Linked DNA regions of Homo sapiens: region 1 is linked to region 2. Evidence: fine-mapped expression QTL. A gene starts in region 2. The other region holds a variant in brackets. All regions are shown on one strand. Distances are from middle to middle.

Region 1 (4,000 bases), 78 kb before region 2:
ACAGCTCCAGCCCACGAGCATCAACTCGGATTCCAGAGCTGGTCCAGGAGGGAGCTGAGCCTCCAGAGGGTGTGGTGAAGGTTCCAAATCACCTCCCTCTCCCAGGCCCTCCTTTCTCATTCCAGAATGTGCTTGTAGTTCTAGAGGACAAGGAAGATGAACACAATGCCAGAGAAGCAGAGGTGTTGTTCACCCCTGGCTCCCCTACGCCAAGCCCGCCACCTCTGCCATCACCCATCCCTGAGAATGAGCTCCTCCTGGAAGAAATCGAGCTCAACATCAGCGAGATTCCACCCCCGCCACCTGTAGAGGTGGACATGAGAAGCATTGGCATCAGGGTAACTGAGGAAAGCCTGGGCCTTGCCAGGGTGGATCCAGGCAGCATCTCCAGCCTGAAACAGCAGGTCTCGGCCCTGGAGGGAGAGTTGTCTGGAAGAACCGAGGAACTGGCACAGGTCAGAACTGCTCTCCAGCAGCAGGAAGAGGAAATCAAAGCTAGGGAGCAAAGAATTCGAGAGCTGGAGTTCACTGTAGCCCAACTGGAAGGACAGTTTCACCAAGAGAACGCCAAAGACACTCAGGGCCAGACGGACGTGATGGTGAACACTGACCCTGTCCATGGACTCTTGACCAGGGAGTCGTGTGATAAGGGCATTGAAGTCAACCTTCTAGGCAGCATGGAGTCTGAAAGCTGGGGGCACCGAGGAGAGGAGAATGGCCTCCTATGGGGGCCAGATGGTCATAAACAAGGGAATCAGAGCCCAGCAGAACGTGTGCTTCTGCCCCAGCTGTCACTGCCACAGGGACCCGAGCAGGTCCTTACCTCCTCTGTACATAGCTTCCTCTCCACTGAACTCAGGATTGAAGAAGCAGGCACTGAACAGGAAGGAGGCCCTCAGGGAGGAACCAGGGGAGCAGGAGGCTTTCTGTGGGGCAGCGACAGAAAGACTCCCCCAGCAGGGAGGGAGGAGACCAGTTCCAATCTCCCAGGGAAGGAGCACCCGGGAAGGCCACCAAGCTCGCCAACGGATGCCACTATTGGGCAGTATGTGAAGAAGATCCAGGAGCTCCTGCAGGAGCAGTGGAACTGCCTGGAGCATGGGTACCCGGAGCTGGCCAGCGCCATCAAGCAGCCAGCCTCCAAGCTCAGCAGCATCCAGAGCCAGCTGCTGAGCTCCCTCAACCTGCTGCTGTCGGCCTACTCGGCCCAGGCTCACCCACCCAAGGAGCCACCGGCCTCCTCCTCCTCCCCGCCAGTGGGTAAATACCATCAATATAGGGGCCTGAGACAGGGAGCCATTTCTCCTTCACATGATAAGGCAGAGGGAACAAGGTTTTCAATTATATTAACATGTTTTTAAAAAGATTTTAGCAGCTGGGAGCAGTGGCTCAGGCCTGTAATCCCAGCACTTTGGGAGGCGGAGGTGGGAAGATCTCCTGAGATCAGGAGTTCAAGACCAGCCTGGTCAACATGGCGAAAACCCATCTCTACTAAAAATACAAAAATTAGCCGGGCATGGTGGCAGGAGCCTGTAATCCCAGCTACTTGGGAGGCTGAGGCAGGAGAATCACTTGAACCCAGGAGGCGGAGGTTGCAGTGAGCCGAGATCATACCACTGCACTCCAGCCTGGGTGACAGAGCAAGACTCCATCTCAAAAAAAAAAAAAAAGAAAAAAAGATTTTAGTACTTCCAGGAACCCAGTGGAATAAAAACTGATGTGTGTGACAGTGGAGGCTCGGGACCTCTACTCTTGCCTTTGCTCTAAGGTTGGGTCTGACTATGGGCCCACTGCCTACAGCTGTATGGATAGCACAGGGCACAAAGATGCCAGCCAGGGAGGGCAAATGAGAGTTGAAAGCCAGCCCACACTCCATTTGCCAAGCCTTGCGCTGCAGCACCACATCCACCCAGAGGGGGCTGTTCTCATTTGCATTGTGCAAAGGCAGTGTCTGGGGCCAAGAATGGCCCTGCTGCGTGGACTCCAGACCTCTTCCTGGGCTTTTGCATTCCTGTGTTCCTCTCTGGTTCTTGCATAGTAGAGGTTTTCTCTGGCCTGGTTTTGGAGGAGCATTATATTGATATCTGGTATAGTTCACTGAATATTTTCTCTGCGTGCATGTGTGTGTGTACGTGCATGTGTGTGTGTACAGGGGCAGGAGATTAAGTGCTGCTCACATATGGAAATGGGCCCTTCGGCTGAGCAGCACTTCCTGTTGTAACAGATCAAACCCTCTTCACTGTCGGGTAAAGTGGAACCACGTTTTGCTTTGCAGGGCAGCATGCGAGTCTGCTTCCTGCCACAAATCACAATTTGACTGCTTTCTCATTGTTTCAGTGCTAGTTCTAGCCTTCCCCGTTGGGAGCCGC[C/T]TCCTGTCCTGTTGAGCACATTGCAAGATCTGTGTCCTTGCTCGTGTATCTACTGTGAGCACGGTGTCATCACCACCCCCACAACCCTAGTGTCAGTATGCACTTGTGAGCCAGGAAGGACCACTGAGGTGCCCTTGAGCAGAAGTGGGTGCTAGACCATGAGTCCAGAGGCCTACGTTCTGCTCCTACACTCCCATTCACTGAGCAAGTCTGGGCCTCAGATTTCCCAGCTGTAAGACAGGGACAACAATGGCACCTACGCCACATGGTTCTTCATCCACACTTAGAGGGGCATTGTTAACAGAGACAGTTCTCCCAACATTGAGCAGAAAGCAAGGCTCCTCCAAGAGGTCCCCAAAACATTGATTTACATGATCTGGTTCCCTGTCCCTCCTTACCTCTCCACACACCTGCAACCCTTGTCCCCTCAAAGCAATATCCTGGTTTTGCTACATTCCCATGCATCCCCAAGATCATTCTAACCTGTGATGTTGTGTCTGCCTAGAGATCTCCCCATCGACCAGCCTTAAATCCATAATGAAAAAGAAAGACTATGGCTTCCGTGCAGGAGGTAATGGGACCAAAAAGAACCTTCAGTTTGTTGGGGTTAACGGTGGGTAAGCATCGCTTGTGAAGCTCAGACTGCCTTTCTTGCTACCTCTCCTGCTATTGTCCTTTGCACTCTCTTTTCCTAGGGGGAGGCATCTGGTTTTCATTCCTCTTCAAGGGAATTAATTTCAATGGCCCTTTAAAACTCCATCTCGGGTTTGCATGCGTTTGGCTTCTTGCCAGCTGTGGTGGTCTGTTGGAACCTCTGCTTTTAATATGTCTTGGCTTTGGTCTTCCCCAGGGCCAGGACTCCAGGTGGCTTCTGGGAGTTTTGGGGGTATACGGGCCCTTAGAGGAAGACATTTAACCTGAACCATAAAACTGAAACTAGTACAAATTCTGTTAATTCGTGGAACTTCAAATTTCATCCATTTAATTTTTTTCTTTCTTTAACTTCCTGCAAGCCAAACCCAAGTGTTTGGGGATGAAGAAAAACAACTAGACTATTGGCTTAGAACATGAACAAAACCTCATATATTCTATAGAATTGAATGTTTGATTTAGAATATTTTCTAAATCAGTCATTCAACAAACATTTATTAAATGCCAACAGTGTGCTCGGTCGTGGAGATTAAAAAGTCAAATAAATAAAGGTCTCTGCCTTTAGCTCACAGATAACAGAAATAAAGATGAAATGCTGATGTGCTGAGATAAGTTTTGTTAGGTGAGGAAGCACAGGATGCTGTGGAAGCCCAAACCCTGAAGGCTGCCCAGAGAGCTCAGAATCCCTGCTAATTTGAGTCACACCAGAAGGGAAGACATTAGACGCCAACAAGGGGAAACATCAGAAATGATGAACTGGGGCCAGTCGCTGTGGCTCATGCCTGTAATCCCAGCGCTTTGGGAGGCTCAGGTGGACAGATCACCTGAGGCCAGGATTTCAAGATCAGCCTGGCCAACATGGTGAAACCCCATCTCTACTAAAAATACAAAATTAGTTGGGTGTGGGGACATGCACCTGCAGTCCCAGCTACTCAGGAGGCTGAGGCAGGAGAATCGCTTGAATCCAGGAGGCAGAGGTT
Region 2 (4,519 bases):
GTAGAGATGGGGTTTCGCCATGTTGGCCAGACTGGTCTCGAACTGCTGACCTTAAGTGATCTGGCCTCCTCAACCTCCCAAAGTGCTGGGATTACAGGTGTGAGCCACCACACCTGGCCCTACCTTTTAATCTTGAAGTAGTGAGAATGCAAAACCTGCAACAACTGTTATGTGAAACAAAATGTGGTTTCTAGCGATGACGAACTGTGGGTTCTGCTAATAGCACCAGACTGCAAAAGGGTCCTGACCCACACTAGATTATAAGTAGGGCTCATTTCTTTATCAGACCCAAGGTCATTTCCCTTGTTTCACTCTAAAATACCCCTCCCCAGTCCAGGCGCAGTGACTCACGCCTGTAATCCCATCACTTTAGGAGATGGAGGTGGAAGGATCACCTGAGGTCAGGAGCTCGAGACCACCCTGGCCGAATGGCAAAACCCCGTCTCTACTAAAAATACAAAAATTAGCCGGGTATAATGGCAGGCGCCTGTAATCCCAGCTACTTGGGAGGCTGAGGGAGTAGAATCGCTTGAACCCAGGAGGCGTAGGTTGCAGTGAGCGGAGATGGCACCATTGCACTCCAGCCTGGGCGACAAGAGCGAAACTCCGTCTCAAAAAATGAAATACCCCACCCCAACCCCACCCGCACACTTACCCGCCACTAATCCTACCCCTAATCCACTAAACTACTTACCAAGTCTCAGCAGTTCATCCGCCTCTGTACCTTCGCTGGGAAGACGAACTCCGCAGAGCAGGACTCGGGTCTACTCTAAGCTGTGCCTTGGTGCCTAGAATTCAAGTCAAGTTCATAACACCAAAGTTTAAGGTTTATTTAATGTAGAAAATCACCTTATATTGAAGACTGGGAAAAAAAAGCACTTATCTATGCATGTGTTTGCTTAAAAAGGCACACACAATTAGCAGAGTCTGGGGTGTAAGTCGGGAGAGGGCTGCAGGGAATGGGAGGACCCAGAGGTGGATCTGAGGAGGCCAGGGAGGGGCCGGAGAGAATGGTTTCTTCTTTGTGAGAGTTGGGGTCTATTATTATGGAAGGCACGCTTTCCTTTTGCAATTTGAACAAGAATTCGATTTGCCTAACAATCGGAGGAAATTGAAGAAAATGCAAAAGTTATTACTTCCAAATCAATTTTTCCAGTCACATAATTAAACACTTTTTTTTTTTTTTGAGACGGAGTTTCGCTCTGCCGCCCAGGCTGGAGTGTAGTGGCCCGATCTCGGCTCACTGCAACCTCCGCCTCCCCGGTTCAAGCGATTCTCCTGCCTCGGCCTCCCTAGTAGCTGGGACTACAGGCGCGAGCCAACACACCCGGCTAATTTTGTATTTTTGGTAGAGACGGGGTTTCCCAAGTTGGCCAGGATGGTCTCGATCTCCTGACCTCGTGATCCGCCCCCGCCTCGGCCTCCCAAAGTGCTGGAAAATAACACGCCCGGCCCTCCATCTTTTTTTATTTGAGACAGTTTCGCCCCTGTTGCCCAGTCTGGAGCGCAATGGCGCGATCTCGTCTCAGTGCAACCTCTGCCTCTCGGGTTCAAGCGATTCTCCTGCCTCAGCCTCCTGAGTAGCTAGGATTACAGGCATGCGCCACCACGCCTGGCTAATTTTGTATTTTTAGTAGAGACGAGGTTTCTCCATGTTGGTCAGGATGGTCTCGAACTCCGACCTCAGGTGATCCGCCCGCCTCGGCTTCCCAAAGTGCTGGGATTACAGGCGTGAGCCACTGCTCCCGGCCCCTCCATCCTTTTTCTAAAGCTAGGACTTGTCAAGCACCACCTCATTTTCTTGACTTTATTTTTTCTTCACAGAACTACTTTCATGTTTCCAATTTGGGGATAGATAAGTCTTAGGAGAGTTTTTTTCTCATTGCGCCACGGACAGTAAGGGAAAGAGCAGGGAGTCAAGTGAGGGGGCCAACTGCCTGCCCCTACCCGGGCCCCACGCACGCACCCGGATCAGCCTTGCCTGGGGCACCTCGGGCCTCACGTACCTGGGCCAGCCTTACCCGGGGCACCCCGCGCCCTTCGCGCCTGGACCAGCCTTATCCGGGGCACCCTGGACCTCACGCTCCTGGACCAGCCTTACTTGGGGCGCTGCGGACCCCACGCGCCTAGACCAGCCTTACCCGGGGCACCCCGGACCCCACGCCCCTGGACCAGCCTTACCCGGGGCACCCCGGACCCCACGCGCCTGGCCCAGCCTTACCCGGCGCGCCCCGGACCCCACGCGCCTGGGCCAGCCTTACCCAGGGCACGCCGGGCCCCATGCACCCGGGCCAGCCTTACCTGGCGAAAAAGGAATCCGCCTGGACGACTGAGGAGCGAACAAAGTGAGGATGGAGCCTTGTAACTAAGGACTGAGAGGATTCCCGATCTCTGGGGCTGGCTCCTCCCCTCCTGGTGTGTCCCAACCCCCTCTGTCTACATACCCGCGCCTCCTCCCCGGAAATCGCATTCCGCCCTAAGCAATTGCTGACTTCCATTGCTGCCCCCCGACTGAGTCCAATTCCCTCTGTCTCCACCGTGCCTCCGCTTGAACGAGCCCCACCCCTCAGACCCGACTCCAGACTCAAATCTGAATAAAGGCACCACTAAAGCGCCTCATCACCCAGGCCTGAACCCCAAGGTCACCTCATTCCTTTTCTTCAACCCTCGCAGTTAATCCATTCCTAAGTCCTTGAATTTGCCGGCGTCTCTCCAACTCCACAGCTCCAGCCCAGTCCAAGCCCCCGTTGTCTCTCACCTGGATCACTGAAATCACCTCCAACTGCTCCCTGGCCTCTCCCACGACCCCTCTGTAATCCTTCTCCCCCTCCAATACTGTTCAGTGGCTTCCTGTTTCGGTTAAATTTCTACCTTCTCATTCTATCCGGACTGCCCCTTCAACATTGTCTTAGCACTACTCTTACAACAGAAACACTCTCTTTCTGTTCCTCAAAAAACACGGAACTACCTGCCTCAGGGCCCTTGCACTGGCTGTTTCCTCTGCGAGTTATTTTTTTCTTTTTCTTTCTTTCTTTCTTTCTTTTTTTTTTTTTTTGAGACAGTCTCTGTTGCCACAGCTGGAGTGCAGTGGCATGATCTTGGCTCACTGCAACCCCGGCCTCCTGGGTTCAAGCAATTCTCCTGCCTTAGCCTCCCAAGTAGCTGGGATTACAGGAGCACGCCACCACTCCCGGAAAATTTTTGTATTTTTTTTTTTTCTTTTTGAGACAGAGTTTTCTTATGTCACCCAGGCTGGAGTGCAGTGGCGCAATCTCGGCTCACTGCAACCTCTGCCTCCTGGATTCAAGCGATTTCTCCTGCCTCAGCCTCCTGAGTAGCTGAGATTACAGGCCCATGCCACCACGCCTGGCTAGTTTTTGTATTTTTAGTAGAGGGGGGTTTCACCATGTTGGTCAGGCTGGTCTTGAACTTCTGACCTGGTGATCCGCCCACCTCAGCTTCCCAAAGTGATGGGATTACAGGCGTGCGCCACCACGCCTGGCCACCTCTTTATTTTCCCAGTTCTTTCAGGATGGCTTCTGTTCATCCTCAGGTCTCAGGTCCAATGTTAACTCCTCTAACAGGCCTCCCAGACTACCCTTTCTACAGGAGCCAAACTCCCCATATCCCAATACTCTTTTTTTGTTTTATTTTTGTTTCTTAAGAGAGGGTCTTGCTCTCTAACAGAGACTCAAAGGTTCTGGGTGGTTGGACTCCCCAGGCCTGACTTGCAAGGCTCAGGTGGAACTTGACTTGCCCAAAGTCATGCAGCTAATAAGCAAAGAAGCCTCAATATCTGGTAGTTCAGTCAATACACAGCATATGAATAAACAAAGAGAATTCGGTCTTTTGCTTTTAATCCCTTATTTCTTCTTACTGCCTAAAATCCCAGCACTTTGGGAGGCTGAGGTGGGAGGATCACTTGTTCATAGTTTAAAACAAAGATGATAACAGCCCTTTCCCGAAACAAACCCTGGGGATTTAGACTGCCTTTGCAGTACTAACAAATTAGCCACAGGATTAGAAATTATGGTTTAGGAGTCATGCAGCTGGAGGCTACAAGACTCTGACTCTCCCCAAATGGCTTCTGGGGATAAGACCACTACTGCAAAACCTAAGACCAGGGAGATATTCCACAGATATTTTGCAGATCCTGCACTTGACGGATCAGCTGGTACCACCCAGATCAATAAACTGGCTGATATGATCTTGGTGGCCCCCACCCAGGAATTGATTCAGCGCAAGAAGACAGCTTTGACTCCCTATGATTTCATCTCTGATCTGACCAATCAGCACTCCCAGCTCACTGGCTTCCCCCCTCCCACCAAGTTGTCCTTAAAAACTCTGATCCCTGAATGCTTGGGGAGATTGATTTGAGTAATAAAACTCTGGTCTCCCACACAGCCCACTCTGTGTGAATTACTCTTTCTCTATTGCAATTCCCCTGTCTTGATAAATGGGCTCTGTGTAGGCAGTGGGCAAGGTGAACCCATTGGGCAGTTACAATCACACCACTACA

What was found. PIP is the estimated chance that this variant, and not a neighbour inherited with it, causes the effect. A credible set is the group of variants that fine-mapping cannot tell apart.
Region 1: its variant is the best candidate, but not a certain one, in a credible set for the expression of L1TD1 in whole blood (TOPMed, PIP 0.63).

The regions. Positions count from the first base shown.
Region 1 is chr1:62,270,464-62,274,463 of GRCh38, reverse strand. It overlaps KANK4 (KN motif and ankyrin repeat domains 4), which reads left to right. Exons shown (of 10, transcript NM_181712.5): 3 at 1-1,260; 4 at 2,875-2,986. Among named protein-coding and RNA genes, the nearest start is that of KANK4, 47 kb to the left of the region's middle. The variant C/T (reference allele first, on the strand shown) is at 2,370.
Region 2 is chr1:62,192,704-62,197,222 of GRCh38, reverse strand. L1TD1 (LINE1 type transposase domain containing 1) reads right to left here and starts at 2,374. Exons shown (of 4, transcript NM_019079.5): 1 at 2,302-2,374; 2 at 695-788. RefSeq lists enhancers at 1,519-2,374, 2,375-3,231.